4 separate regions of the Homo sapiens genome follow, and all the other regions are linked to region 1. Evidence: fine-mapped expression QTL. A gene starts in region 1. Each other region holds a variant in brackets. All regions are shown on one strand. Distances are between the middles of the regions.

The links. PIP is the estimated chance that this variant, and not a neighbour inherited with it, causes the effect.
Region 2: its variant is the best candidate, but not a certain one, in a credible set for the expression of HINT1 in whole blood (TOPMed, PIP 0.50).
Region 3: its variant is the best candidate, but not a certain one, in a credible set for the expression of HINT1 in tibial nerve (GTEx, PIP 0.75).
Region 4: its variant is the best candidate, but not a certain one, in a credible set for the expression of HINT1 in whole blood (INTERVAL, PIP 0.72).

What each region holds. Positions count from the first base shown.
Region 1 is chr5:131,161,164-131,168,914 of GRCh38, reverse strand. It overlaps HINT1 (histidine triad nucleotide binding protein 1), which reads left to right and starts at 3,659. Exons shown (of 3, transcript NM_005340.7): 1 at 3,659-3,820; 2 at 6,239-6,343. The coding sequence starts at 3,710. RefSeq lists enhancers at 3,290-3,339, 3,610-4,269, 4,270-4,930 and silencers at 3,490-3,539, 3,550-3,629, 3,840-4,479.
Region 2 is chr5:131,704,082-131,711,832 of GRCh38, reverse strand. FNIP1 (folliculin interacting protein 1) reads left to right here. Exons shown (of 18, transcript NM_133372.3): 7 at 1,172-1,255; 8 at 2,561-2,632; 9 at 5,287-5,422; 10 at 7,567-7,751. Among named protein-coding and RNA genes, the nearest start is that of RAPGEF6, 73 kb to the right of the region's middle. The variant T/C (reference allele first, on the strand shown) is at 3,392.
Region 3 is chr5:130,870,033-130,877,783 of GRCh38, reverse strand. It overlaps LOC107986449 (a long non-coding RNA gene), which reads left to right and starts at 6,357. Exons shown (of 4, transcript XR_001742881.1): 1 at 6,357-6,575. The variant G/A (reference allele first, on the strand shown) is at 3,901.
Region 4 is chr5:131,081,135-131,088,885 of GRCh38, reverse strand. No RefSeq gene overlaps it. Among named protein-coding and RNA genes, the nearest start is that of HINT1, 80 kb to the left of the region's middle. The variant T/C (reference allele first, on the strand shown) is at 4,547.

The DNA of each region.
Region 1 (7,751 bases):
AACTGTTGAGATTCCGGAACCTCTGACTATGTTATATATGACAAGAGGCTTTGAAGATGTCATTAAATTAAGTATTTTGAGATGGGAAGATTATCCTGGATTGTGTGCTGGACTCAGTGTAATCACAAGGATCCTTATAAGTGAAAGAAGGAAGCAGAGTCAGGGAGAAGTTTGAAGATGTTCTGCTGCTGGCTTTGAAGATGGAGGAAGATGGAGGAAGGGGCCACAAACCAAGCAAGCCTCCTCTAGAAATTGGAAACGGTGAGGAAATGATTTCTTCCCTAGAGCATCCAGAAGGAATGCACCCTTGCCAACACTTGATTTTAGCTCAGTGAAACTCAATTTGGACTTCTGACTTACAAAATGCTACCTGTTTTTGGCTCCTTCCATTTTCTTTTCCTTTTTTTTTTTTTTTTTTTTTTTTTTTTGAGAAGGAGTCTCCTACTGTCGCCCAGGCTGGAGTGCAGTGGCATGATCTCAGCTCACTGCAAGCTCCGCCTCCCTGATCTCAGCTCACTGCAAGCTCCGCCTCCCGTGTTCACGCCGTTCTCCTGCCTCGGCCTCCTGATTATCTGGGACTACAGGCGCCTGCCACCACGCCCAGCGAATTTTTTATATTTTTAGTAAAGACGGGGTTTGACCATGTTAGCCAGGATGGTCTCAATCTCCTGACCTCGTGATCCGCCTGCCTTGGCCTCCCAAAGTGCTGGGATTACAGGCGTGAGCCACCGCACCTGGCCCAACTCCTTCCATTTTCAAAGCCAATAATGGAGCTTTTTTTTTTTTTTCGAGACAGAGTCTTACCCTGTTGCCAAGGCTGCAATGGCATGATCTCGGCTCACTGCAACCTCCGCCTCACAGGTTCAAACGATTCTCCTGCCTCAGCCTCCCGAGTAGCTGGGATTACAGGCTCCTGCCACCATGCCCAACTATTTTTGGTATTTTTAGTAGAGACAGGGTTTCACCATGTTGGCCAGGCTGGTCTCAAACGCCTGACCTCATGATAGCCCACCTCGGCCTCCCAAAGTGCTGGGATTACAGTCGTGAGTCACCACACCCGGCCGAGCATTTTCAAATCTCAGACTCTCACCTCTGCCTCTGTGGTCACATCTCCTTCTCTTACTCTCACTCTTCTGTGTCTCTCTTTCACTTACAAGGGCTGTTGTGATTACTTTGGGCCCACCTAGATAATGCAGGAACCTCCCTATTCCAAGATCCTTAACTTAATCACATCTACAAAATCCCACTTACCATGTAAAGTAACATATTCACAGGCTCCAGGGATTAGGACATGGGCATCTTCTGCCTAGCACACTGAGTTTGCGTGATGCCAGTCAATAAGGTTGAAATGGAAAGAAATGAGGTAGAAGCAGCAGCAATGGGCCTGATCACACAGGGCCCTATAAGCCAAGGTAAGGATGTTGGATTTTATTCTGTGATGTTATACACTAGCATATTACCAGCAGGAGAGTGACATTATGATTTATATTTTATAAAGATCATTTTGGGTGCTGTGTGGCAAATTAACTACAATGGAAGCAGATAGGTTATCCAACTAGGAGCCTTTCAAAGTACTCCAGGAAAGAGATGTTAGTAGCTTGGATTAGAGTAGTGGAGATAGAGGAGATAAGTGATTAGATCCTTGGTGATGTGTGTTGAAAGTACAGAGAGAAGGTTTAAGGATGATTTCAAGGCTTTTTGGCTGGAGTGACTGGGTGAATGGTGGTACAGCAGATACAGAATCCTGCAAAAGGAGGTTTTGGTTTGTTTGTTGTGGAGGGAGTCAAAATAAAATTGCAGTGCCTGGTAGCCATCTAAGTGGAGGTGGTCAATAGGCTGTAATGTATGTCACAGACCAGTCTGGAATTAAGGGAAGAGGTAGGTCAAGAGACAAATACTTGAGAGTCACTACTCTATAGATGGTAAAGCCTTCAGATGGAATGAAAGCTGACCATGTTATTTATTATCCAAACCAGCACACATTTTTTTATTTTGACAATTTCAGACACATAAAAGTTGCAAGAATAATACATAGAATTTGCATATGCCTTTCAGTCAGATTCTCCAAATGTTAACATTTTATTGTAATTGCTTTATCCTTTTCTATTTCTCTAATTACCTATAGACAGACACTTTTTCTCTGAACTATTTGAAAGTAAGTTGCGGACATGATACCCATAGCCTTAAATACTTCAGTGGGTTTTTCCTACAAAGACATTCCCTTGTATCAGTAGTTCTTAAAGTATGGTTCCCGGGCCAGCAGCAACTGTATCACCTGGAAAGTTAGAAACCTAACTTGTAGGGCCCCACCCCAGATCAACTGATTTTGACAATTTTTCTGTGGTTATGAAAGGAAATTAACATGACTTCAAAACTATTATCTAATTTATAGGCATTATTTAGATTTTACGAATTGTCCCAGTAATGTCTTTGATAGCAAAAGTACCAAATGGACACTTTTGAGATTAAAGGCAACCACATTCAATAATTTTGCCAAGACAAGGGTAGTAATGTAATCATAAAAGGCAGCTGAGCTCACATCTGTAATCCCAGCACTTTGGGAGGCTGAGGCGGGTGGAACACCTGAGGTCAGAAGTTTGAGAACAGCCTGGCCAGCATGGGGAAACCCTGTCTCTACTAAAAATACAAAAATTAGCCAGGTGTGGTGGTGCGCGCCTGTAGTCCTAGCTACTTGGGAGGCTGAGGCATGAGAATCACTCGAACTCGGGAGGCAGAGGTTGCAATGAGCCGAGATTGTGCCACTGCAGTCGAGCCTGGGCGACAGAGCAAGAATCTATCTAAAAAAAAAAAAGGCATTGAGGAGGTATACTTTTTCTTAATACGTACACTTAGAGGTCTGGTATGATAACTGTAATTGTCTATAGGATTTTATAAATGGATGTCCTTAGTGACCTTGACAAGAGGGAAATGGACTCAAAAATGAAAGATAAGAAAGCAGACATGGTATGTAGAAAACTTCTTTATAAAACGAGCAAAGATACGGAGGGGGATGTGGGATTAAGGAAGGTTTTTTTTTTTAAAGTGGGTCATTTTATTAATACATTATGTTGATTGCTGCTGGGAAAAATTCTTTGCAGAGCAGTCTAGGGAGGTTTACAAACTACTGATGCCTGGGGCTCATCTCCAAAGATTCTTATTTAATGGATCTGGGCTGCAGCCAGGTTCACGGGGATTTTTAAAAGCTCCCCAAGTGATCTTAATGTGTAGTCAAGATTGAGAACCACTGGTAGAGAGAGAAAAAAACTCTGTTGAAGAGAGGACTTAAAATCTGCTGCAGCAGCAAGACCTTAAATAATCTAAGTGCTAAGTTGCAGCCAGCACCACTTAAATTATCAAATCTTGTCAGTTACAGTATCCAACTTTCCCTACAAGCATCCATAGGCAGACGAAGGGTTTATACCAGTAACTGCATTCCCCAGGAGACAAGAAAGGAGGATAGAAAAACGACTTAGGAATCTCCTTGGAGCTCAAGACCAGGAACTTCCCCAAGCCGGAGGTCCCTGAGGCGCTCTAGCGCGCTGGCCGCACTCGCAGCCCAGGTCGCCAGTGCGCACGCGCAAGATTAGGTGGGGCGCCAGAGCCGGGGCACCTGCGCAGGCTTGGCTGCGCCCTCTCGCGCCGCACGCTCTGCGGGTTCCTCCCTTCTTCCGAGCCTCTCCTCTGGCCGCCGCGCGGGAGAGAGGCCGAGATGGCAGATGAGATTGCCAAGGCTCAGGTCGCTCGGCCTGGTGGCGACACGATCTTTGGGAAGATCATCCGCAAGGAAATACCAGCCAAAATCATTTTTGAGGATGACCGGGTAGGTACTGGGCACCACCTCTCTCGCCTGCTGAGGTGGGTATCGTCCGCGGATCCTCGGGTTTCTCGCGGAGGGAGAGGAGGGGTCGCGAGTGTAGCGGCGACGGGAGGGGACCTGGCTGCCCTGGTCCAGCGGGCCCCCAGCCAGCGGACAGGGCCCGGGCACTCCGAGGCGGCCTGCCGGCGCGTGCCGGCGCTCCGGTTACTCGTTATCTGCCCCGGGCGCGGGCCAGGCCGCCGGGCGCCCTGAGTGCCGCACCGCGGGGCCTGGGCGCGTGTCGGGGCGCACTGGGGCCCCCGCGTGGAAGCCCGCCGGTTCCCCGGCTGCCTCGGACCTTGCCTGTATCAGGAATCTCGAAATCTCGCCAGCGCTCTGCCTGACAGAGAGAAACCCGATCGCGCCCTGACTCAGGCCCAATCTCCGCGATCTCCCGCGCACAGCCGGCCTGCCAGGGCCCGGCGTTCCTGGGCGCTGCTCAGCAAGGCATTGTGCTCGAGGGCCCCAGGGGCGCTGGGAGGTGCGCGGGCCGTCTGGGCCTGCCGGCTTCCTCCGCGGGGTGCGGCTTGCCACCCTCACCCCTACCCCTATCCCTATCTCCACCCCAAGGCCTACCCTGGGCTAGCGAGGCGATCTCCTGAGATAAGAAGTGGGCCCGCGTCTGGGATTTGCTTTCCGTTGACCTCTCCCGCTGAACATTTTGGACTTACAAACAGCTGAATGATTCTTTTTGTATTCAACAGGAAGTAATTTTATGCCAAGAGACTAAGACTGTAGTTTTTGTTGACTTCTTGTAGGTGAAATCCCAGTTGATGTGACTTTGAGATATCTTGTGTAAATTATTTAGTGGCCAGTTGTATTTTTGGGATTGGATCTCAGATAAAGCTGGGCAGATTGGCTGATTTAGATAGAACAAATTTTGTAAACAGTTTTGTTAAATTTAGGAAATATAAAATCTAAGAAAAACATTTATTCTACTAATGTCGGTTAGATTCAAAACGTTATCAAAAATTTAATTAGGTTCCTCTAGGTAAATTAAAAAAAAAAATACTTTGTCTCTACTCAGGGGAAATTCTTTGGTTTTAGAAAAAATATTTCTTTTTAAAGTTCGCAGTTGCCTTTGAGAAATGGTTCTTGAAAAATTTACATTTGAACCACCGAAGTCCAACTGTAGAACGGCAGGAAGCATTCTAAATGAATCAGCATTTTGTAGGGAGTACCCAGTAGAATTACTCCTGAGACAAATAAGTGTGGATGGGTTTTATTAAAACAGCTTTCACTTCAGCAGTGAGCAAGAGATTCGAAAATATTCATGTCATATGTGTATTTACAGACACTGTTTTAAATAATTAGTCTAAATGCTAAAGAATATCATATATATACTCTTCAGCTTTACACAAAAGGATAGGTATATTTCTTAAATAGTTGAGTAAAGTGAGAATAGATATTAATCAAGTATCAGACAAATATGTAGTTACAAAACTGATTGCTATCATAAAGAAAAAAAAAAAACCAGGAAATTGCACAACTAGGACTCTGACCTGGGAGTAATGGGACGGGGAGGGCAATCAGAGGTTTTTTTCTGTTTTTTCTTTTTTCTCCCAGAAATCATGTATGTGCTGGGAATGGAATGGCGGAATGACTAGCAGTTTAAATTAGACGGAAGTTGGGGTTTGGAGGGGGAGAGGATCATTGAAAAAGCTCTGAGGGCAGAGAGCTCAGAAGGCCAGTTCCATGTGAAGACCTGCAGGAGATCTGGAGAGGCAGGCAAGGATTAGCATGGCCAATTTTTATGCATTCATTGGCTCCCAGTTTAAATGTCACTGCCTCAGAGTTGTTCTTAAACACTTAATCTAAATCAGGCTTTTCCTGTAATGATCATTCATATTTTTCCTTTGTAACATGTATGACCTTTGGTGATTATACTTTTAAAGTTGGTCTTCCCATAAGACTTCCATGGAGTCCGGGTGCAGTAGCTCACGCCTGTAATCCCAGCACTCTGGGAGGCCGAGGCAGGTGGATCACCTGAGGTCAGGAGTTCGAGACCAGCCTGGACAACATGGTGAAACCCCGTCTCTACAAAAACACAAAAATTAGCTGGGCATGATGGCACGTGCCTGTAATCCCAGCTACTTGGGAGGCCGAGGCAAGAGAATCACTTGAACCCAGGAGGCGGAGGTTGCAGTGAGCTGAGATCATGCCATTGCACTACAGCCTGGGTGACAGAGTGAGATTCCATCTCAAAAAAAAAAAGACTTCCATGGAAAGGACCACGGCACCATTCGTAATGTGTACACTTCTGTTTTCTTAGCATCTAGTGCCCTCCATGTAGTTACTGCTCAGTAAATACTTGTTGAAATAAGTTTTATCCTACCAATATACTAAAAGTTTGATTTATTTATTTATTTCTCTTTTCCCTAGTGCCTTGCTTTCCATGACATTTCCCCTCAAGCACCAACACATTTTCTGGTGATACCCAAGAAACATATATCCCAGATTTCTGTGGCAGAAGATGATGATGAAAGTGTAAGTACATTTCTAACATGATTTATTTTCTTGCTTTTTAAATTGTGAGATTAATTTTGTCCTTAAAGTGCTGTCACATTTTCATCTTCCTAAGGTCATTACTAAGGAAAAACCAGAAAAACCATTAGGACTTCAACTGCCCAGCTGTTTTCCAAAGTTACTGCATCATTTTGTATCCCACCAGCAATGAATGAGCGTTCCAGCTTCTCCGTATCCTTATCAACACTTGCTATTACCTTTTTTTTTTTTTTTTGAGACAGAGTCTTGCTCTGTCGCCCAGGCTGCAGTGCAGTGGCACTCGGCTCACTGCAAGCTCCACCTCCCTGGTTCACACCATTCTCCTGCCTCAGCCTCCCGAGTAGTGGGACAACAGGCGCCCGCCACCAAGGCTGGCTAATTTTTTGTATTTTTAGTAGAGACGGCTTTCACCATGTTAGTCAGGATAGTTTCGATTTCCTGACCTCGTGATCCGCCCGCCTCGGCCTCCCAAAGTGCTGGGATTACACGCGTGAGCCACCGTTCCTGGCCTATTATATTCTTAAAGTAAGCTAGAGAAAAGGTTATTAAGAAAATCATAAGGAAGAGAAAATATATTTACTATTTATTAAGTCGAGTGAATCATAAAGGTCTTCATCCCTGTCATCTTCATGTTGAGTAGGCTGAGGAAGACGAGGGGTTGGTCTAGCTGTAGCTGTCTCAGGGGTGGCAGAGGCAGAAGAAAATTTGCATATGAGTAGACCTGCACGGGTCAAACCCATGTTGTGCAAGGGTCAGTTGTATTTACTTGGGGATACCTTTTTAAAGTGAGACATTATTTCTGAAACTTAGAAACTTCAAGGCATTAATTTTTAATTCAATATATTTGTACAAATCACAGAGTTCAAAGATTAGAGCGAGTACTTAATGGTAAAATACCGTCTTATATGCAATAACATTAAACCCTCAGAATACATTTTTTTCTTTTTTTTTTTTTTTTGAGACGGAGTTTCGTTCTTGTTGCCCAGGCTGGAGTGCAATGGCACGATCTCGGCTCACCGCAACCTCTGCCTCCTGGGTACAAGCGATTCCCCTGCCCTCCTGAGTAGCTGGGATTACAGGCATGCCATCACGCCTGGCTTATTTGTATTTTTAGTAGAGATGGGGTTTCTCCATGTTGGTCAGGTTAGTCTCGAACTCCCAACCTCACGTGATCCACCCGCCTCAGCCTTCCAAAGTGCTGGGATTACAGGTGTCAGCCACCACGCCCAGCCCCAGAATACAAATTTTTAACATTTAGTATAATTAGACAGTCATGGCATTTTAAGGTCAGAGCTTCTTACTCAAATGCAGCTCTTTTCTGTAAGGACAATAAAATGTTAATTTTTACTCAGTTAACATTCTAAATTAGTGTTTTAAGGTCATCTCTTTT
Region 2 (7,751 bases), 540 kb before region 1:
AAAAATAATATCTGTTAGCAATTTGAAAACTACAGTTGGCTGGATACAGTGGCTCATGCCTGTAATTTCAACACTTTAGGAGGCCAAAGCAGGAGGATCACTTGACCCCAGGAATTTGAGATCAACTTGGCAATGTATCAAGACTTTGTCTCTACTAAAAAGTTCTCAAAATTAGCTGGGCCTGGTGGCATGCACCTGTAGTCCTGGCTCATGGGGAGGGTTGAGGAGGGAAGATCACTGGAGCTCAGGAGTTCGAGCTTGCAGTGAGCTATGATTATGCCATTGCATTCCAGCCTACATGACAGAGCAAAACTCTGTTTCAAAAAAGGAAAGAAGAAACATGCAATTGTCACTTTTTAAAACAGAAAGCCCCGTATTCCATCCTAGTTAAATGTCCTTCATGGCTATTTAGACTATTTTCATGAAGCATAACTAACAGGTAACCCAGCTGCTTGCTTTCAGGCTATAATGTCCTTCTTGGGTCTTCAGACTGCAGTTACCTTTTCTTGATGAAGCATGTGGCAGCCACTTCTCTTGAACAGCTGGGAGTCTGGTCCCTGATGAGCTTCATTTGTGTTCCTCCTTCCACAGTGGCTGACTCCTGGTTTAGTAACCTTGGTTTCTTCCATTACTTTGTAACTTACAACTGGGTTAGAAAAACCAATTTTTAATTTGTCAGTAAGATCTCTTCTGGTTTTGCACCCTGTTGTATGCTGTGTGCCAAGTGCTTAGGTGGTTTTCTCCTCGCTGCAGTTGTAGGCACATACTATAATCTTCAAACAACTTTAAAAAAATGAATTTATTTGGCAAATATCAGATTAGATAGATAACATTATCGTACTTTTTCAAATCTTTAAAAATACTGCTTTACATTAGAAAGGATTGAACATTTAAAATAATTTTTACTTTATATAGCAGAAGCTTGTTTTTATTACATATAGATTTATTAGTAAAAATACATGAAGTTGTTGTTTCATATAAATCATGGCTAAAGAAACACCATCCTGTTTCAAAAATGGGAAAGACAGCTTGAATTCTTATTTAGTTTAAAAGTTTCCATCCATATTTGTTGGTCTGCTCTTGTGCTGCCTTAGCTCACCTTTTTTCCCTGACGCATTGTGGCTTCTCTAACAGTCCTCTTTCATGTGTATTTTACGTTTTTGCCATGTAGGTCTTTCACAGTTCTGCAGCCCCAGGCGGGCATTCTCTGAGCAGGGTCCGCTCCGCCTGATCAGGAGCGCCTCTTTCTTTGCAGGTTTGCGATGTGCTGTGTGGGTAGACTAGTTGGTGTGCCCCAACGGCTAGAATCTGTAGTTAAGCTGTGGAAACAAGAGAGTAGATGAATGCAGTTGGTGAGGTTGTGGTTAAGAAAACATTGCATTAGGAAGTATAAAAACTTAATTCCTTTTCTACTGAACATGTTCTTAAAGTTTCCAGACACCGGATTATCAGTAGAATTGACATTTTTATGAAATTTCAGTTTGTCATTTCTCTTGTGGCATAATGATTTTAACTTCAGAATCTGAAACCAAAACTTAATATGAACTTTATTTCTTATGATACCACTTGGAATTTTTAATGTGACACTGTCTTGTTTCCATGGCTGAGTAGCTTTTGTACCATAGTTCACCAATTGCAGAAAATTATCCTATCTTGTTATTATTGTAAAATTTCTGATCTACACTATTCCATAAGAGCAGTTTTTCTTGGAGCTAAGATTTAGATGAACAAGCACTACTATAATGCTCTGTAAAAGGCATATATGACTATATTTGCTTACATAATCAAGTTGATGATTGTAGAGTATGTTCATGTGTATATATCCAGGATTCTAATCATATTCCTTGTTTTCACACATTTTAGCGGATTACCTAACATTGTAACCTTTTAGTGGAAATTACTGGAATGTGAACACATTTACTCTTCATTGTTCTCAGATTGGTATCAATTTAGCCCTTCTTGTTTTGATTAATATTTTCTTTCCCTGTAAATATTAGATATAAAAAATATATATTTGTAGAAAACTTGGAAAACACTTTTAAAAGGCAAAAATATATATTAGCCATTTTATCAGCCAGAAATACCTGCTTTTTTGTTTTTTAAAGAAAATGGGGATCATACTATTCAAATAAATATCTCAATTTATTATAGAGAATTTTGAAACATACATTGTTATAGGCAGAAACAGTACAGTGAACTATGATATACCCACCACTTGGTCCCAGCAAGCACTCATACTGTTCAGTAGCTTGCTTTTTTTCATTTAATAGTATATTATAAATATGTCACTGAATATGCTTCCAAAATATGACTTTTAGTCACTCCTTGCTTCTTTAGATATTATGTTTTAGATTCTTATACTGTGTATCAAATCTTCACAGAGCTCTCAAAGCTTGTTCAACTGAGTAATAGCTCTTGGTGTTGGGTTGGTGCCATGCTATTGAAAAAAATAAGGGAATGCAATGAGATGAGCATGATTTCGTTTGCTATTTAAAAGGAGCTGTTCATCCACCTGAATAGCAATATATTTTATAACTGACAGTTTCATCTTTATTTATAGTTCACAGCAACCCAATGGACATGCCTGGAAGAGAGCTCAATGAGGACAGAGACAGTGGCATAGCACGGTCTGGTAATGTCACGTTCTTGTATTCAGTTTTTTATGAGATTACTGTTGGCATTGATTTTCTTTTTTATCCCTCCCTTTATTATCAAATTTGTTCATATTGATATTAGCCTTACAAGAGAACTGTGAAAAGACCAGAGCAAAGTCTTATAAATTTAATATTTTTCATGTTTACTTTTAAGTGTGCTAAGTAGGATAAAGCCAGGATGAAGTAAAGCCAGAGTAAAGTACACTGGTTGAAGCTTAGTGAATATAAGAAGAAAAGCATTGGTCAGAAAAACTGCTTAGAAACTGTAGTAAAAAAAAAACACGTTTGCTTATATTTGCTTGCTGCTAACTAAAGTTTAAATTGTCATATTGTCTCTTGCCCAGAAAAGCATAGGCATTTTGAATCAATGTTATACTTTTTTTTTTTTTCCAAATATGGACCTGTCCAAAATTTGTAGGTCTAGCAAACATTTATTGAAACATGGTGGACATTAAAAAAATTAAAGCCCAGAGTCTGCCCTTACGGAACACAGATGTATGGAGTCTACTGGGAGAAAAATTAGGAAAATCATCTGTCATAGGTCATTGTGTGATGCATTTAGTGATAGGCCTGCGCAAAAAGCTTCAGCGAAAGAGCACCACACTTAGCCTGGGCAAGGGGCAGGGATGCCAACAATGCTTTACAGAAGGATGATGATTGAGTTGTATTTTGAGAAATAAATAGCAGTTATCCAGGCAAAAGCTCAGAAAAGCATTTTAGCTAAAAGGAAAAGTGTT[T/C]GTTGGGGCCCAGAGAGCAGCATAAGTAAAAGGAGGAGTAATTTTAGGCTTGAATTACTGTTAGATATGAGAAACTTAATTCAGTGTGATAGCATGTGTTGTTACATTATATGGCTCTGCTATCGAAATTGTTTTGTAATTCAGTTTTGAGTATAAATGAAAAATCTAAACTTGCTGTATATTGCAATCCCTAGGTATGTATTAGAATAACAAAGAGAAGTTTTATAAAAAATTCAAGTGCCTGAACTCTACTTTCAAAGACTCTCGTGTAACCTAGAGAAGGTATCTCTAGGCATCTGTATTTGTGAAACAAAACAAAATGCAAAACCTAACACTTGATTCTAATGGATAGCTAGGGTTGCCGACCACTACTCTAATAAGAGTAGCTTGTGTTTTTCAAGTAATCTCATCTTTCTTTTCTAATTGAGTTTCTTATTTTTGTTTTAAAGAATCTAGAGTTTATTTCTTTTAATAAACTTTGCTTCGATGTAATCTAGATATTTAGTCTTCCCTGGCAGGAATTTAATTCTCATTATTTTATTTAAGATTTAAGTATAATTTATTTATACTTACATTCTTTGTAAGTTGAAGCATCTGGCTAGACTGATCTGTTAGGCTGCTTCAAGTTATTGGATTCATATATGCCATTTAAGTTAATGTGTGTTTTCTTTTTTTTCTAATAGGGTTATTTTTAATATTAGAATGCAGTGAAATGTATTTTTTCCAAACTTAGGACAGCATTTTATTTTTCACTGAAGTCATACCCAGATTTAGTTGTACATACCCAATCTTGGACTACAAGAGTTTATAATACTAATTGATAAAATGTGGTCTGCATTTAGAATCTGCATTCTAAAGTAATTTAGAATGAGTTCATTGATGGTCTACATGTTTGCATGGCACATACAGCTTTATCCTCTATCATTGAATTTGTCAGAATTCAAATGAATAGATCTTCATAATGAAAGTGTCTCAGTTTTTAGTGCTGGTGTCCAAAATAATTTATCATCTGGCCTGTACCTTTTTAATAGTGATGATAATGGTTCCCTGTTTTGAATATACATTTTCAGTATGTGCTTATGATCATGAAAGATAGAAGTCTGGAATATTGCCAAACAAAAGCAAGCCCTTAATGGCAAGTGTTATCCTCTCTAAATCCAGTGGGGAAAAGCCTGATGAAAATCTCCTAGCCTAATGAAAAATCAGCAGTTGTAGCTCTTAACACCTCAAGCAATAAACATATCTTACAGATTTCACAGAAGTGTTTCGGGAAGGGAATAATCCATCCCCAAGATCAGGGGATTGCAGCCGTGAAAGAGTGGAGTCTGCTGGAATGTGTTTGTCACCTTAGATGCTCCAGGGAGCATTCTTTTTTTGGAGCTTAGTAGGTATAGTCATGATTCTTAATTAAAAGTGGTAGGTTTGACTACATGTGCACATGTGATCCATGAATACTTGTAAATGACCTCTTTAAATGCCATTCAGACACTTATTTTCAATAGCTTGTTCTTAAAATCCAGCTGCTGCATTAAGTTTGAATAGCATCAGATTTCCTTTAATTTAAGAACTAAAAGGATTCAACTGAGTTAGGGGACAGTCAATCCAGTGGCCAAAGGGATAATGCCTTGTTGCAAAGTATAATTTTCTTCTGGAGTCCCTAGAGGGGAATGCCAAAAGGGGATTGTCTCAGAGTTTTTTGCTGATACATTGTTAATATATGATTTTTCTCCTCTGAGACCTTGCTACAAGAAGGATGTGTTCTTTTAATGAACATTTTTGAGGCTCATGAAGCAAAATAAAGTTTAACTTAACCTATTTGTAATTTTGTTAAAAAGAAATTTGTCATTATGCTTAGTCATTATTGACTTATACTTGTTGTTCTTCTGACTTAACAGCATCTCTCAGCAGCTTGCTGATCACTCCATTTCCTTCCCCAAACTCCTCACTTACCCGAAGTTGTGCCAGCAGCTACCAGCGACGTTGGCGACGCAGCCAAACAACAAGTTTGGAAAATGGGGTATTTCCTAGATGGTAAGTTGGAACTTTAAACACAGAACAAGATTGAGTAGTTCCTTAAACACAATTTTATATGGGTTTTTTAGAACCTGGACTTGTATTCTGTGTATTTTAAGTTTGAAACTGAAAACTTTTAAAATTTACTACATTTTTAAAATTGTGGTAAGTTATACATAACAAGTTACAATTTTAACCATTTTTAGGTGTACAGTTCAGTGACATTTGTTTAAATACCTTCATATTGTTGTGCAACCATCATCACCATCCAACTCCAGAACTTTTTCCTCTTCCCAGCTGAAACTCTGTATCCATTCAACGTAATTCCTCATTTCTCCCTTTTCTTCCTCTTGTAACCACCATTCTATTTTCTGTCTTTATGAATTTTCATTCATACCTTGTATGAATGAAATCATACACTGCTTGTCCTTTTGTGTCTGCCTTATTTCATTTAGCATAATGTTTTCAAGGTTTATCGATGTTGTAGCATGTGTCAGAAATTCATTCCTTTTTATGACTGAATAACATTCCGTTGTATATACATACCACATTTTGTTTATCCATTTGTCTATTGATGGACACTTGGGTTGCTTCCACTTCTTAACTATTGTGAATAATGCCGCTCTGAACATGAGTGTGCAAGTATCTGTTCGAGTCCCCATTTTCAATACTTTTGGTTATATATCCAGAAGTGGAATTGCTGGATCATATGGTAATTTTGTTTTTAAATTTGTGAGGAACTGTCACGCTGCACACTGTTTTCCATGGTTACTGTACCATTTTACATTCCCACCAGCAATGCACAATGGTTCCAATTTCTCCATATCTTCACCAGCACTTATTTTCTGTTTTTTTGATAATAGCCATCTTAATGAGTCTGAAGTGGTTCCTCATTGTGGATTTTATTTGCATTTATCTAATAATTAGTGAAGTTGAACATCTTTTCTATTCTTTTCTTTTCTTTCCCTTTTGAGTCGCCCAGGCTGGAGTGCAGTGGCATAATCCCGGCTCACTGCAGCCTCAACCTCCCTGGGCTCAGGTGATCCTTCCACCTCAGCCTCTCAAATAACTGGAACTACAGGCTTGCCACCACACCTGGCTAATTTTTTTTTTTTCTTTTTTTTTAGAGATGGGGTTTCGCCATGTTGCCCAGGTTAGTAGAACTTCTGGGCTCGAGTGATCCACTTGCCTCAGCCTCCCAAAGTGCTAGGATTACAGGCATGAGGCACCACATCTGACTTGATCATCTTTTCTTGTGCTTATTGGCTATTTGTATATCTTTTTTGGAGAAATGTCTATTTAAGTCCTTTGCCCATATTATAACTGCATTTTTTTGCTTTGTTGGTGATGTCTGGAAATTCTGTATATATTTTAGATATTGATCCCTTATCAGATATATGATTTGTAAATTTTTTTTACATTCTGTGGGATGCCTTTTTACTCCATTGATAGTGTCCTTTGATGCACAAAAGGTTAAATTTGTATGTAGTCCAGTTTATTTTTTTTTCCTTTGTTGACTGTGCCTTTTGTGTTATATCCAAGAAACCATTGCCAAATCAGTGTCATGATGCATGATGCCTTTACCCTTTGTTTTCTTCTAAGAGTTTTATGTTTAGGTCTTTGATTTATATACTACATGTTTTGATATTTCAGTTTTTCATGTTTTTATTTTGGCAAGGTAATTCATTCTTGAAAGATTAGTTTTTAATCTACATTAAGTACAACTGTAGATACTAAAAGTTCTTGTTTTCTCCTCTTTTTTATTTCCTTTATTCCTTCATCTTTGACTTTACTCCTGAAATCAAAAACAGACACCAGAAGGGCCTAGAACAGGGAAAAGATTGTACCAGACTCATCTATAAATCTTAAAATTTAGCCACTTTTTGGTTGATTATGAATTGGGATTATCTACTTCTTTAGTTACTTCTAATTGGACAAAAAAATGTTCCCAATCTGACTCTGTAGTAAAATTTCTTACAAGAACATGAACCTGAAAGAATAGCCAGTAGATTTCTTAAAGAGATATACAATTGGTATGAAATTATAGGTTTGTTTGATAAAACAGCAAAAGACTTAGCTTACCTACATTTAATTAGCAAGAAGATTAAATTGTGAATTTATTTTTACTTTTGTAAATTAATAAAAAATCATTTATTTTTAAGGTCTATAGAAGAAAGCTTTAATCTCTCAGATGAAAGCTGTGGCCCTAACCCAGGAATTGTGCGGAAAAAGAAGATTGCAATTGGGGTAATCTTTTCATTGTCCAAAGATGAAGATGAAAATAACAAATTTAATGAATTCTTTTTTTCACATTTTCCTCTCTTTGAAAGCCACATGAACAAATTAA
Region 3 (7,751 bases), 290 kb after region 1:
ACCCAGTTCCAAATTTGCTTCCACATTTTTGGGTACCTTTTCAGCAGCATCCCATTCTACTGGTACCAATTTACTGTATTATTCCATTTTCACACTGCTGATAAAGAAATACCTGAGACTGGGCAATTTTACAAAAGAAGGAGGTTTACTGGACTTACAGTTCCACGTGGCTGGGGAGGCCTCACAATCATGGTGGAAGGCAAGGAGGAACAAGTCACATCTTATGTGGATGGCGGCAGGTAAAAAGAGAGCTTGTGCAGGAAAACTCTGCCTTATAAAACCATCAGATCTTGTGATACTTGTTCACTATAATGAGAACAGCATGGGAAAGACCTGCTCCCATGATTCAATTACCTCCCACTGGGTCTTTCCCACAACATGTGGGAATTCAAGATGAAATTTTTGTGGAGACACAGCCAAACCATATCATCTGCCTATTAAAAAAGTGTATACCCCCAGAAAATCCTGTTCCCTTCCATGATTGATTTTTCATCTTAGCATTTATTACCACACAAGGTACTATACCTTCTCTCTCACTCTTTCTTATGGTCCAGACACAGGAACATAAAAATACATTTTTAAACAAAAATATTTAAATAATAAATATCAATTTGTATTTTTTTTTTACTGAATGATGTAACTTTGGATATTTGTCCATGTTTGCACCTCACTATTCCTAACTGCTGTTTATTAGTATTCCCAATAAAGATATACCATAATGATTTATTTATTCTCTTACTGATGAACATTTCTCCCCAGTTTTTTTGCCATTGCAAAAAATGTTGCAATAAAGATCACTTTACAACCTTCCTTTTATGTAGTCACAGGTTTTTCTAAGAATATTTAAAAGGAAGTAGAATTTTGGGGTCTTGGGATATTGTTTGAATGATCTATTCTCCATAAAGAAAAATTACTTCAAAACATCCACTTATTATTATAGTTATGTTAAAATACATTTATTATTATCTCATAGTTATCTTGGTTGCTTGGGCTCAGTTGAGTGATTCTCGTCTGAGTCTTCTTGTGGTTATAGTCCGATGGCTATTGGGCCTGGAGTCAGTCATCTGAAGGCTCGAGTGGGCTGATAGGCAAGGAAGCTTCTTTATTTACATGTGTGGAGCCTCATTTGGAATGACTGGAACTGATGGGGGCTTGTCAGGCATCTTTCTCTTTCCATGTGTCCTCTTTACATAGCTAGCTTGTGCTTCCTTATAGCATGGTGATCTGAGGATAGTCAGACTTCTTACATGACAGCTAGCTTCCCCCAGAGCAAGTGTTCCAAGGAGTAAGGTGCAAAGATTCTTATATCCTGGACCTGGAAGTCCCTGAACATCATTTCAGATGCATTCTGTTGGTTAAACAGGGAGAGAGGGGAGGGGACTACATAAAGATGTGTACAGTGCAAGATAGGGCTCATTTAGGGGCCATATTTGGAGATTAGCTACCAAGGACGTGGGTTTCTCATTATAGTTTAGCAGGTTGGGATTAGAACTAATGTCAAATTAAAATGGAGATTTAGTGAAAAACAAGCCACAGATTAATAGAATAGGTGTATTTAACCTTGTAATGATACTTATATAGTGATTTCCTATAGTCCCTGAAATGATTTTGTGTTCCCAGTTGATCCACACAACGTGTTTCCAGGGAATTAAGCAATCTAGATCCAATAATCTAGACATTTCAGACCTGGAAATGACCCATATGTGTTTTTAGTTTCCTTTTAACACTTATAGATGAGGGAAATAGGGTTCAGAGAAGTTAGGGTAACATGTTCAAGGTAATTAGTATAAGGAGTTTGTAGCAGGACCAAAAATAGTACTCAAGACTCTTTCAGCGTTCTTTCCCTTATGTTTTATTTTATTATAAATCAGCTTCAGTGAGTAATAGTGCATCTACTCTAGGAAGATGTTTGTATTCATGTAAGTTTAGTAATATTGGAAGTGGTGTGGGTGGTAACTCTTATTACTTAGTAAGTAGGGTGTAAGTTTTTTACACCCTACTTTTTTTGTAAACTATTTGCAATGTTTTTTAAATGACCTATCCCTTAGAAATACTATATGCATTGCTTCATTTCACTTGGTAATATGTTTCAGGGAATAAAATAAAGTTTTAACATATGTTTTGTGGTTGAAAAACCAGGGATCAACTTGTTTCACAAAACTGAGTCTAGAAGCTGGCTGGGAATGATTTTTGGGTCCCAGTTCGTGGTCCACCACTGGGTGGTGAGTGTTGGAACTGCCAAAGAAACATAGGGATGCTTGGTACATGGGATGAGAAATAATTGGAACATACCTGGCATGATACTTCTAAGAAATCTATTCTGGTTTTTGGAATACAAATATATTAATTTATTCTAAAACTTTCCTAGGAGATATGATGCAGATGTTATAGAGGGTGCTTGGGCCCTAAGTGAGTTCCATGGTTCTCATGGAGTTCAGATGCTATTCATTGGCATACCCCAGATTCAGAGCTTGAAGTGGAACTGAGCTATTGAGCTCAACTACTCATCAGGAATTCTGTTGGTCTGGCAGGAGATAAACCTGGATGATTACCAGAAGCAGCTGTGGGCCAGATGGGACTGGCAATGCTTGCTGCAGCCTAATTCCCAAGAACTTCAGTGCTCAAGAAGAAAGGCATATGCTTTGTCCCCCTGCTGCCTCCACCCCAGACCAAGCTAATTCCACCCTTCATTCCCTTCTCTGTTCTCTGTCTTCTCCTCCCACTCAAACTTCACTCAGCATCAGCGCCAACTTAAGAGTTCCTTTGCAGCTTTCTCTGGCAACTCTGTTCTGCACTCTCAAATCTATTTCACCTGTTAGATTTTTTTCAAAATAGCATCAAAAAGTGAGTGTATTTAATCATACTCAGCTCATAATAGAGAAAATTGGTGAATAGATTAATAATTCATGCTCCAGCATTAACTGGCAACAGAGAAAGTTGGTCACAGGAAGGCAGAAGAACCTCATTTTCTTTCTTTTTTTTATTATTATTATACTTTAAGTTTTAGGGTACATGTGCACGATGTGCAGGTTAGTTACATATGTATACATGTGCCATGCTGGTGTCCTGCACCCATAAACTCGTCATTTAGCATTAGGTATATCTCCTAATGCTATCCTTCCCCCCTCCCCCCACCCCACAACAGTCCCCAGAGTGTGATGTTGCCCTTCCTGTGTCCATGTGTTCTCATTGTTCAATTCCTATCTATGAGTGAGAACATGTGGTGTTTGGTTTTTTGTCCTTGAGATAGTTTACTGATAATGATGATTTCCAATTTCATCCATGTCCCTACAAAGGACATGAACTCATCATTTTTTATGGCTGCATAGTATTCCATGGTGTATATGTGCCACATTTTCTTAATCCAGTCTATCATTGTTGGACATTTGGGTTGGTTCCAAGTCTTTGCTATTGTGAATAGTGCCACATAAACATACGTGTGCATGTGTCTTTATAGCAGCATGATTTATAGTCCTTTGGGTATATACCCAGTCATGGGATGACTGGGTCAAATGGTATTTCTAGTTCTAGATCCCTGAGGAATCACCACACTGACTTCCACAATGGTTGAACTAGTTTACAGTCCCGCCAACAGTGTAAAAGTGTTCCTATTTCTCCACATCCTCTCCAGCACCTGTTGTTTCCTGACTTTTTCATGATTGCCATTCTAACTGGTGTGAGATGGTATCTCATTGTGGTTTTGATTTGCATTTCTCTGATGGCCAGTGATGCTGAGCATTTTTTCATGTGTTTTTTGGCTGCATAAATGTCTTCTTTTGAGAAGTGTCTGTTCATATCCTTTGCCCACTTTTTGATGGGGTTGTTTGTTTTTTTCTCATAAATTTGTTTGAGTTCATTGTAGATTCTGGATATTAGCCCTTTGTCAGATGAGTAGGTTGC[G/A]AAAATTTTCTCCCATTTTGTAGGTTGCCTGTTCACGCTGGTGGTAGTTTCTTTTGCTGTGCAGAAGCTCTTTAGTTTAATTAGATCCCATTTGTCAATTTTGGCTTTTGTTGCCATTGCTTTTGGTGTTTTAGACATGAAGTCCTTGCCCATGCCTATGTCCTGAATGGTAATGCCTAGGTTTTCTTCTAGGGTTTTTATGGTTTTAGGTCTAACATGTAAGTCTTTAATCCATCTTGAATTAATTTTTGTATAAGGTGTAAGGAAGGGATCCAGTTTCAGCTTTCTACATATGGCTAGCCAGTTTTCCCAGCACCGTTTATTAAATAGGGAATCCTTTCCCCATAGCTTGTTTTTCTCAGGTTTATCAAAGATCAGATAGTTGTAGATATGCAGTGTTATTTCTGAGGGCTCTGTTCTGTTCCATTGATCTGTATCTCTGTTTTGGTACCAGTACCATGCTGTTTTGGTTACTGTAGCCTTGTAGTATAGTTTGAAGTCAGGTAGCGTGATGCCTCCGGCTTTGTTCTTTTGGCTTAGGATTGACTTGGCGATGCGGGCTCTTTTTTGGTTCCATATGAACTTGAAAGTAGTTTTTTCCAATTCTGTGAAGAAAGTCATTGGTAGCTTGATGGGGATGGCATTGAATCTATAAATTACCTTGGGCAGTATGGCCATTTTCACGATATTGATTCTTCCTACCCATGAGCATGGAACATTCTTCCATTTGTTTGTATCCTCTTTTATTTCATTGAGCAGTGGTTTGTAGTTCTCCTTGAAGAGGTCCTTCACATCCCTTGTAAGTTGGATTCCTAGGTATTTTATTCTCTTTGAAGCAATTGTGAATGGGAGTTCACTCATGATTTGGCTCTCTGTTTGTCTGTTATTGGTGTACAAGAATGCTTGTGATTTTTGTACATTGATTTTGTATCCTGAGACTTTGCTGAAGTTGCTTATCAGCTTAAGGAGATTTTGGGCTGAGACAATGGGGTTTTCTAGATATACAATCATGTCGTCTGCAAACAGGGACAATTTGACTTCCTCTTTTCCTAATTGAATACCCTTTATTTCCTTCTCCTGCCTAATTGCCCTGGCCAGAACTTCCAACACTATGTTGAATAGGAGTGGTGAGAGAGGGCATCCCTGTCTTGTCCCAGTTTCTGTGACTGGCTTATTTCACTTAGCATAACATCCTCAAGGTTTATCCATGCTGTACCATATGACAGTATTTTCTTCTTTCTAAAAGGCTAAATACTATTCCATTATATATTTATACCATCTTTTCTTTATCCATTCATCAATTGTCAGTGGACAATTAGATTGTTTCCATCTCTTGCTTACTGTGCATAATGCCACAATGAACATGGGAGTTCAAGCATCTCTTGCTGCCTTCAAAATTTTCTCTTTGTCTTTGACTTTTGACAGTTTGATTATAATGTGTCTTAGTGTGATCTTCTTTGGGTTCATCCATGATGGACTCTGTTGGCCTTTGTGAATCTATATGTCCATTTTCTTTCTTAGATTTGGGAAGTTTTGGGCCATTATTTCTTCTACTTCTTTCTTTCTCTCTTTTCCTTCTGAGACCCTATAATGTATATATTGGTGTGCTTGCTAGTGACTCATAGTCCTTGGCTTTCTTCCCTCTTCTTCATTCATTTTTCTTTGTGTTCCTCTGATAGGATAATTTTAAATGACTTGTCTTTGAGTTCACTGATTCTTTCTCCTGCTTTCTTCTGCTTCAAATCACTCTAGTGAATTTTTAAAGTCAGTTATTTTGTTCTTCAGCTCCAAATTTTTTATGTTTGTTACTTTGTAGTGTTTTCTATCTCTTTGCTGTTTTCCTGAGCTCATGGGGCATCCTTATGAAGATCATTTTGAATTCCTTGATAATTCATATACCTGGGTTTCATTAAAGTCGGTTTCTAGAGATTTATTTTATTCCTTTGGTTAGGCCGTGTTTCCCTGTGTCTTTAGATGCCTTGTTACTTTGTGTTTGGATGCACACATTTGAAAAAAGAACTACCTCCCCCAGTATTTACTGGCTTCATACGGGGACCTTCACAAATCCGACTGGCTAGTGATTCTGGTGACTTCTCAAAGATTTTTTGGTAATGTGTCTTCTCCAGACTTATGCATGTAAATTCTTAATGACCAGTTTTCTTTTTTCTGAAGCTCATTATCTCGTCCTCCCTCTGGTGTTTGTCTGGAGTACTACAGGTTCTCTGGAGCTGCCATTGGCCACCCAGGTTTTATTCTTAGTGGCACCCTGTCAGGGTCCCAATAGCATTCTTAGTCAGGTTAGGCAGAAATTCATTACTCAGGCAGATGCTGGAGAAGCTGGAACATTGGACACATGTTCCACTCCCTCCTTTCCCCCTGAGGGGAGAAGCTGCCAAGTTGCATCAGCCTCTGTCCTCTGCACCATAGGTCCTTGGAGCAGCAGTAAGCTACTCGGCTGTTTTTTGTTCTTAGTGATTCCCAGGCATCTAAAATATGCTGCAACCCACAAGTACCCAAAACGGATGAAACAGAAGCCAGACCCGCAGGCAGCCCTCTGAAAAGCTGGAAATGTCGGATAGAGACAGCAACTCTTTTTCCTCCCCAGCAGGAAGTCAGGAGTTAGGAGTTTTCTCCCACTTGTGCTGTGCTGAACTGGGGGTAGGGGAGGATGGCAGGTGAGTTTGTTACAATTCTTACCATCACCTTTGTTCTTAGTGGGTCCCAACTTGGTGCTGTTTCTTGTCCATGCTCATATTCATGTAAGACAGAAACCAGTCCCTTGGGTAGCCCCACAAAATGTCTGAATATTAGGCCTATGTTCCAGTCTTCTCTTTCCCTCCCTCAGGAAGAAGCTGGGAGTTGAGAATTACCTCAGGATCACTCTGGGCTATGCTGGGGATATGGGCTCTGTTGAGTGAGTGCCACAAATTTTCCTGTTGGTCAATGTGACTGGTTTCATGCTTCCCCAGGGTGCAGGAGCCTCTGACCTAGTTTCTGGATTTCTCACAAAGGGGTCTGGTCCATGTGTTGTTGTTGAATCATTGTCTGTAGGGGGAAAGAATGGTTTGGAGCTTCCTATTGTGCCATATTGCTGATGTCGTCCCCCAAGGAGGAGTGTTAATGCATAAATGACTTAGAACAGTTCCTAGGATTTAATAAGCACGCAACAAATCTTAGCTACTTTTATTCTTCTGCCTTAAGAAGGCTGAATATTTTTCTTATATGCCCTATTACTTATGTTACTTTGAAAACTGTTAAAATAATGTAATGAGAATTATAGTGTTAATAAAAAAAATCCTGATATGTTGACTACAACTTCAAAAGAGAAAACAGAAGAACTAAAGTGAAACCATATTTGTTTCTTTTGAATAACTAACACACTAGTCAGTATAATTACTGGTTCTTTTAAGATTGACATGAGAAGCATTGATGGGCAGTAAGTAAACATCAGTGCTGCTTTATGACAGTTTCTGAACAGCAGAAATTTCTGTGGTCTACAACTACTGTGATCCAGAAGGAATTAGACTAACAAAACTCGTAAGACAAATAAATAATACCATTAAACCAGAACCTCTTGGCAAGCTATAAGAGAGTCAGTTTTTTTGTTTTTTTTTTTTTTTGAGATGGAGTCTCGCTCTGTCACCCAGGCTGGAGTGCAGTGGTGCAGTCTCAGCTCACTACAACCTCCACCTCACAGGTTCAAGCAATTTTCATGCCTCAGCCTCCTGAGTAGCTGGGACTACAGGTGCATGCCACCACGCCCGACTAGTTCTTGTATTTTTAGTAGAGATGGAGTTTCACCAGGTTGGCCAGGCTGGTCTTGAACTCCTGACCTCAGGTGATCCACCTGC
Region 4 (7,751 bases), 80 kb after region 1:
CTCTGGCTGCCCTTAACATTTTTTCCTTCATTTCAACTTTGGTGACTCTGACAATTATGTGTCTTGGAGTTGCTCTTCTTGAGGAGTATCTTTTTGGCGTTATCTGTGTTTCCTGAATTTGAATGTTGGCCTGCCTTGCTAGATTGGGGAAGTTCTCCTGGATAATATCCTACAGAGTGTTTTCCAACTTGGTTCCATTCTCCACATCACTTTCAGGTACACCAATCAGACGTAGATTTGGTCTTTTCACATAGTCCCATATTTCTTGGAGGCTTTGTTTGTTTCTTTTTATTATTTTTTCTCTAAACTTCCCTTCTCGCTTCATTTCATTCATTTCATCTTCCATCGCTGATACCCTTTCTTCCAGTTGACCTCATTGGCTACTGAGGCTTGTGCATTCATCACATAGTTCTTGTGCTGTGGTTTTCAGCTCCATCAGGTCCTTAAAGGACTTCTCTGCATTGGTTATTCTAGTTAGCTATTCGTCTAATTTTTTTTCAAGGTTTTTAACTTCTTTGCCATTGGTTCGAACTTCCTTCTTTAGCTCGGAGTAGTTTGATCTTCTGAAGCCGTCTTCTCTCAACTTGTCAAAGTCATTTTCCATCCAACTTTGTTCCATTGCTGGTGAGGAGCTGCATTCCTTTGGAGGAGGAGAAGCACTCTGATTTTTAGAGTTTCCAGTTTTTCTGCTCTGTTTTTTCCCCATCTTTGTGGTTTTATCTACCTTTGGTCTTTGGTGATGGTGACGTACAGATGGGTTTTTGGTGTGCATGTCCTTTCTGTTTGTTAGTTTTCCTTCTAACAGGACCCTCAGTTGCAGGTCTGTTGGAGTTTGCTGGAGGTACACTCCAGACTCTGTTTGCCTGGGTATCAGCAGCGGTGGCTGCAGAACAGCAGATATTGGTGAACCGCAAATGATGCTGCCTGATCATTCCTCTGGAAATTTTGTCTCAGAGGAGTACCTGGCTGTGTGAGGTGTCATTCTGCCCCTACTTGGGGGGTGCCTACCAGTTAGGCTACTCGGGGTTCAGGGACCCACTTGAGGAGGCAGTCTGCCCGCTCTCAGATCTCCAGCTGCATGCTGGGAGAACCACTACTCTCTTCAGACCTGTCAGACAGGGACATTTAAGTCTGCAGAGGTTACTGCTGCCTTTTGTTTGTCTGTGCCCTGCCCCCAGAGGTGGAGCCTACAGAGGCAGGCAGGCCTCCTTGAGCTGTGGTGGGCTCCACCTAGTTTGAGCTTCCAGGCTGCTTTGTTTACATACTCAAGCCTTGGCAATGGCGGGCGCCCCTCCCGCAGCCTGGCTGCTGCCTTGCAGTTTGATCTCAGACTGCTGTGCTAGCAATGAGTGAGGCTCCGTGGGCGTAGGACCCTCTGAGCCATGTGCAGGATATAATCTCCTGGTGTGCCGTTTGTGAAGCCTGTTGGTAAAGCGCAGTATTAGGGTGGGAGTGACCTGATTTTCCAGGTGCTGTCTGTCATCCCTTTCTTTGACTAGGAAAGGGAATTCCCTGACCCCTAGCACTTCCCGGGTGAGGCGATGGCTCACCCTGCTTTGGCTCACACACGGTGTGCTGCACCCACTGTCCTGCACCCACTGTCCAACACTCCCCAGTGAGATCAACCTGGTTCCTCAGTTGGAAATGCAGAAATCACCCGTCTTCTGTGTCACTCACGCTGGGAGCTGTAGACTGGAGTTGTTCCTATTCGGCCATCTTGGCTCCACCCCCGTTACATTACATTTTATCATGATTAAAGATTTAAAGAAAAATTAAACAATGGAATTACCATATGATACAGCAATTTCATTTCTGAGTATATACCAAAAAGAATTTAAAGCAGGGTCTCAAACAGATATTTGTATACTCGTGTTCATAGCAGCATTATTCACAAAAGCCAAAAGGCAAAAGCAATCTGACTGTCCATCAGTATAAAGACTCTCTAAGCAAATATGTCAAAAAAAGAACAAAACAAAGAAACCCCAAGATAAATGGGCAACAAAATGTGATATTACATACAATGAAATATTATTCAGCCTTAAAAAGGACAGAAATTCTGACACATGCTACAACGTGGATGAATCTTGAAGATATTATGAAGATTGAAATAATCTAGTCACAAAGGACAAATATTATATCATTCTACTCTCATGAGGTAATCAAATTAGAGCAGTCCAATTCATAGAGACAGAGGTAGAAGGAGGGTTCTCAGAGAATGAGGATGGGAAAGAGACTAGTGAGTTATTTTTTTAATAGGTACACAGTTTCAGATTGGGAAGATAAAAAAGTTCTGCAGATGGGTAATGATGGTGGCACAACTATGTGAATTTACTTACTGCCACTGAACTTTACACTTACAAAGGATTAAAATGTTAAAATTTATGTCATGCATATTTTACCACAGTCAAAAATTAATCATATTCTTATGTGCTAGCAATAAAGATATTTAACATAATCATCTGGTGGATCTTCCAATTACCTTCATTATATCCACTCCAGCATGCCCACTTCCCTGAGTTACAAAGGTGTCAAGAACACACAATGGGGAAAAACACATGATGTGAAAGGACAGTCTCTTCATTAAATGGTGTTGGGAAAACTACATGTCCACATGTAGAAGAATGATATTGGACCAGTATCTCACACTATATAAAAAATAAACTCAAAATGAATTAAAGGGTTAAAAGCTAAGACCTGAAACAATGATACTAGAAGAAAACATAGGGGAAAAACTCCATGACATTGATCTGGGTAATGATTTTTCGGGTATTACTGCATAAACATAAGCAACCAAAGCAAAAACAGACAAATGGGATTACGTCAAGCTAAAAAGCTTCTGCACAGTAAAGAATCAGCAGGGAGAATGGGAGAAAATATTTGTAAATGATAAATCTGCCAAGGAGTTAATATTCAAAATATATAAAAATCTCAAACTCTATAGCAAGAAAACAGGTAAGTTGATTTAAAAATGGGCAAAAGACCTGAAAAGACATTTCTCAAAAGAAGATACACAAATGGCCAACAGGTACATGAAAAAATGCTCAACATAACTAATCATCAGGGAAATGCAAGTTGAAGCCACAATGAGATATCACCTAATTCCTGTTAGAATGGCTATGATAAAAAAGACAAAAGATAACAAGTTTTGGCAAGGATGTGGAGAAAATGGAACCCCTCCACACTGTTGGTAGGAACGTAAAAAGGTGCAGCAGCTATGGAAAACAATATGGTGATTCCTCAAAATATTAAAAATAAAATTATGATAAGATCCAGAAATCTTGCTACTGGGGAGCAATGTCTATCTATCTAAAGGACATGAAATAAAGAGCTCCTGATTCTATAATGATGGCATAGAAGCAAGCTGGATTCACTGCCCCTGAGAAAACCAAAACAAATATACATAGCTGAGTGTATCACCAGCAATAGCCCAGAATTTAATATGAGGAAACAGTTCCTGGGGCCACCGAGAGGTAAAAAAACTGAGCAGATGGTAAGAGAATTGGAGTTCCGTATCTGCAGTGCCTGTCTCCCCAACCTACCTGGCACCAGCACTCGGAAAAATTTTTCCTGACTCGTGGTTTCTACGTTGGACAAAGTAAGATTGAGATGAACAATGAGCTCCCTCACCACCTGGGTTCCTTGGCAGGAGATCTTCTCCTGTCTCAATCCATGGGAATCAGTGGGAGTGCCTGAAGGGAGAAATATCCCTGAGGACAGCCAGAGACAAAGTAGGGAGTGGGGCTACCAACCCCAGCTGTAGAAACTCTGCTCTGTAACTTGGCCAAAGGAGATGACAAATCAGAGTGACTGTTAGCAGCAACATGTTGTAGGAGGTTCATTTCACAGGTTGCCTGGGCAGAGACCCTTAGCCAGCCTTCCTACACTACTGGGATAACCAATTTGCAATCTCCCCCATTTTGGATGGGCAGCATTCTGATTGTATACTAGAACTGAGGCAAACTTGGGTTTAATGTGCTATCTAGTGCTGAAAAAGAAGCAGCGACCTAGCAGAAATAAATAAATAAATAAATAAATAATAAAATAAAACAAATCACGAGGTAAAATATAAAGACTCTAAGCAAATATGTTAAAACAAACAAACAAAACAAAAAATCCCCAATATACCCCAACATGAGCCATATAGAGAAGACTGGAATAAATAACTAATCATTCAATGCAAATACATAGATGTATATCCACAAGAAACAGCAGCAAATAAGGAACCATGACTTCCTCAAACAGACAAAGCAAGGTACCCACGACTGAATCTAAAGAGATGGCAATATTTGAACTCTATGACTAAGCATTCAAATAGTTTTAAGGAAACTCAGTGATCTCCAGGATAACACAGAAAAACAATTCAGAATTTTATTGGAGAAATTTAACAAAGGGGTTGAAATAATTTAAAAAACTAACGGAATGGATCAAATAGAAGAAAGAATAAGTGAACTATTTGAAAATGCAGTCAGAGGAGAAAATAGAATGAAAAGGAATGAAGATTGCCTGTGAGATATAGAAATTCACCTCAAAAGAGCAAATCTAAGAA[T/C]TATTGGTACTCAAGAAGGAGTTGAGCAAGAGCAAGGGGTAGAAAGCTTATTCAAAGAAATGACTAAGGCAATAAAGTCAGTACGTTGAAGAGTATCAACACTTCCATGTTTATGGCCGCACTATTCACAATAGCCAAGGTAGAGAATCAACTTTTGTTCATCAACAGATAAATGGAGAAAGAAAATGTGGTATATACATACTCTGAAATACTATTCCACTATAAAAAGAAGAAAATTCTGTCATTTGTGACAACATGTATGAACCCACAGAACATTACACGAAGTGAAATAAGCCAGACATAGAAAGACAAATACCACATGATCTCACTCATATGTAGAATCTAAAAAAGTTGGACTCATAGTACTAGAGAGCAGAATGGTGGTTACCCAAGGCTGTCGTGCTTAAGTGGAGTGGAGGATGGGGAGATGTTAAAGGATATATTAATATAATTAGATAGAAGGAATACATTCAAGAGATCTGTTGTACAGCATAGTGACTATAGTTAATGAACATATATTGCATTCTCGAAAAATGCAAAAATATTGGATGTTAAGCATTCTCATCATGAAAATGATAACTATGTGAAGTAATGCAGTTGTTAATTAGTTAGATTTAACTATTCCACAATGTATATATACTCTAAAACATTATATTGCACATGATAAATACATTTCTAAAAAAGTGGGAAGGGCAAATTTCAGAAAGGTGTAGGGCTGCTAAAACTTGTCAAAGAAAGAAGAAAGAGGATTATTTCAGTTTCCTGGTACCATTAAATGCAGCTGAGACTGATGCCCAGGATCCTATTTTAGTAGTTTTTGCTTCCTCTAGGCACAGAACTTTAGCTTCTTCTTATCTCTCCTATGAGGCCAGGTAAAGTTTCTGGTAGTTTACAGAGAATGGTTATTTTTTCATAAGAAGAACAAAATCTGACTGTATTGTGCCAGGCTTACACATGCTTTGGTTGAGATATATTAGGACAATCAAATATGCACAGTTAGTCCCTCCTACACTTAACAGGGCCACTATCCTTCCTTCTAGGTGGCTTTGCTTCTTCCTAGCCTGATAGTGTCCCCAGAACATATCCACTAAAATATGAGGTTTTGTAGAGAGAAAGTGAGAAAAAGAAACCTGGTGACTGAGAGCTACTACTGCTCATGGTTAAACCCTGGCCTATACCTCTTGACTTTTCCTCTCCACCCTTTCTCTTTACCATGTCCTAGACAATGTCCAAATACATTTCTCTTGTAATGTGAGTAAATTCCAAAGGCTCCATGTTGCCCAGTCTCAGCATGCTGCCACATTCAAAGAAAGAGTTGATCAGGCTGGGCATGGTGGCTCATGCCTGTAATTTCAGCACTTTGGGAGGCTGAGGTGGGAGGATCACTTGAACCCAGGAGTTTGAGATCAGCCTCGGCAACTTGGTGGGACCCCCATCTCTACAAAAAATAAAAAAAATTAGCTAGGTGTGGTGACACACGCCTGTGGTCCCAGCTACTTGGCAGGCTGTGGTGGAAGGGTCACTTGAGCCTGGGAGATTGAGGCTACTGTGAGCCATAATTGCCCCACTGCACTCCAGCTTGGGTGACAGAGTCAGATCCTATCTAAAAGAAAAAAAAAAAGGGAAGAAAGAAAGAGTTCATCAGTCAAAAGTATGTAATTAAAATTAATTCAAACCTTTACTTATGCCTCTCAAAGATAATTAATGGAGATCCAATTCAAAATTCACAGGACCACTTTTAAAGCTAGTTATTTTCCCATTCTTCTCACCCTCCAGTTCTCTCACAGCCCCCCTGCTTCCATGGATTTTGAATCCCTGTCAGATTCCTTAGTTTCCTGTGCTCACTGATGACTTATTTCTGCACAATAGGGTTGAGTGGTGGTGGGGGAAGAGACATACCAAAGTTCCTTAGTGGGCTGGGATAGGAAAGTCTGTTGGTTTTGATTATAATGTCCTTGAACTTTTAACACTTTATTGAAATTAATTACTTACATGTTTTTCTCTAACACTTAGATCAGCAGCCTCCCACAGAAGTATCCTAGTCCACTAATGTGTGGGAATCAGGCTGGACTTACACTACTGTTCAGGGAATTATGTGTAACTTTCATGGTATGCCAAAGCCTGAAATGAGTGATCATAAAAATCTGGATGAATTAAAGCAGTAAAATTTTACACAGTAAAATCTGAAAGGGTAGGGACAGCCACCACATGCATTCCTATTCCTTAGCTCTAGAAAGAATGAATATATGCACTTTCATCATGTAGATTGGGATTTATTTATGCCTTAAACTACCGTAATTATAATATAGGTCTGAATCACAGATCAGTTTCTTTCAGCTTGAAGTTATTAACACAAATTTTATGACCCACATATTCCTAAAAGGAATGAATTGAGGCGGAGGAATGAAGAAGAAAGAAGGCAAAGGCCAATTCTTAACTCAGCTGATGGATACAACTTTTGGGAACTTTTCATTTTTTTTTTCCCCAGGAAGGATGAGTCTGACATTATCAGTTCAGATCTCATGATGCAGTATTTGCTTGAAACCCAGCATGATATTTGCTGCTAGAGATTTCATATGACTCTGTATTGATTCTGTACTAAAAGGATATAGAAAACTTGTTTTAGACAAATAGTGAATGTGTGCTGGATGATTTCTCTCTCTTTCTCTCTCTTTTTTTTTTTTTAACTTTGCTTTGTCATATGTTATTGCCAAACTCCTTGTGCTTATGTGCTCATGTGGCTATGTTCTCCTGGGTAGCATTCCATCTGTTTGATTTACGAAATCTGTGATGCTGTCCTTTTGGCTTGGGAAAAGTAGATGTGGTTTGGGTGCTAGAATATGAAAATTCAGTTTCTGCTAATGTACGTATCAAATCAGTAAATCACCAGATAAGTCAGTGGCAGAGAATTAAAAGTCACGCTCTTGGACAACAGTACAGACTTTTGCAAATAAACATTTTTTTTAATCAATTTTCCCCTCTTATAATATCAGTCCTTTTTTGGAGTGGCGTTAACAGGAAAAAATTTGCCTTAATCATCCTTTCATGTGACATTTTAGTGAATACCTTTTGTTGGATTATTTAAATAGAGAATTACAAACTCTTTTACATTATAAAGACTTATAAAGGAGTTGTAATCTTTGAAAAATAGCATAGGGATATTCAAACCCATCTTGCCAACTGGTCTGAATTATCGCAACTCCAC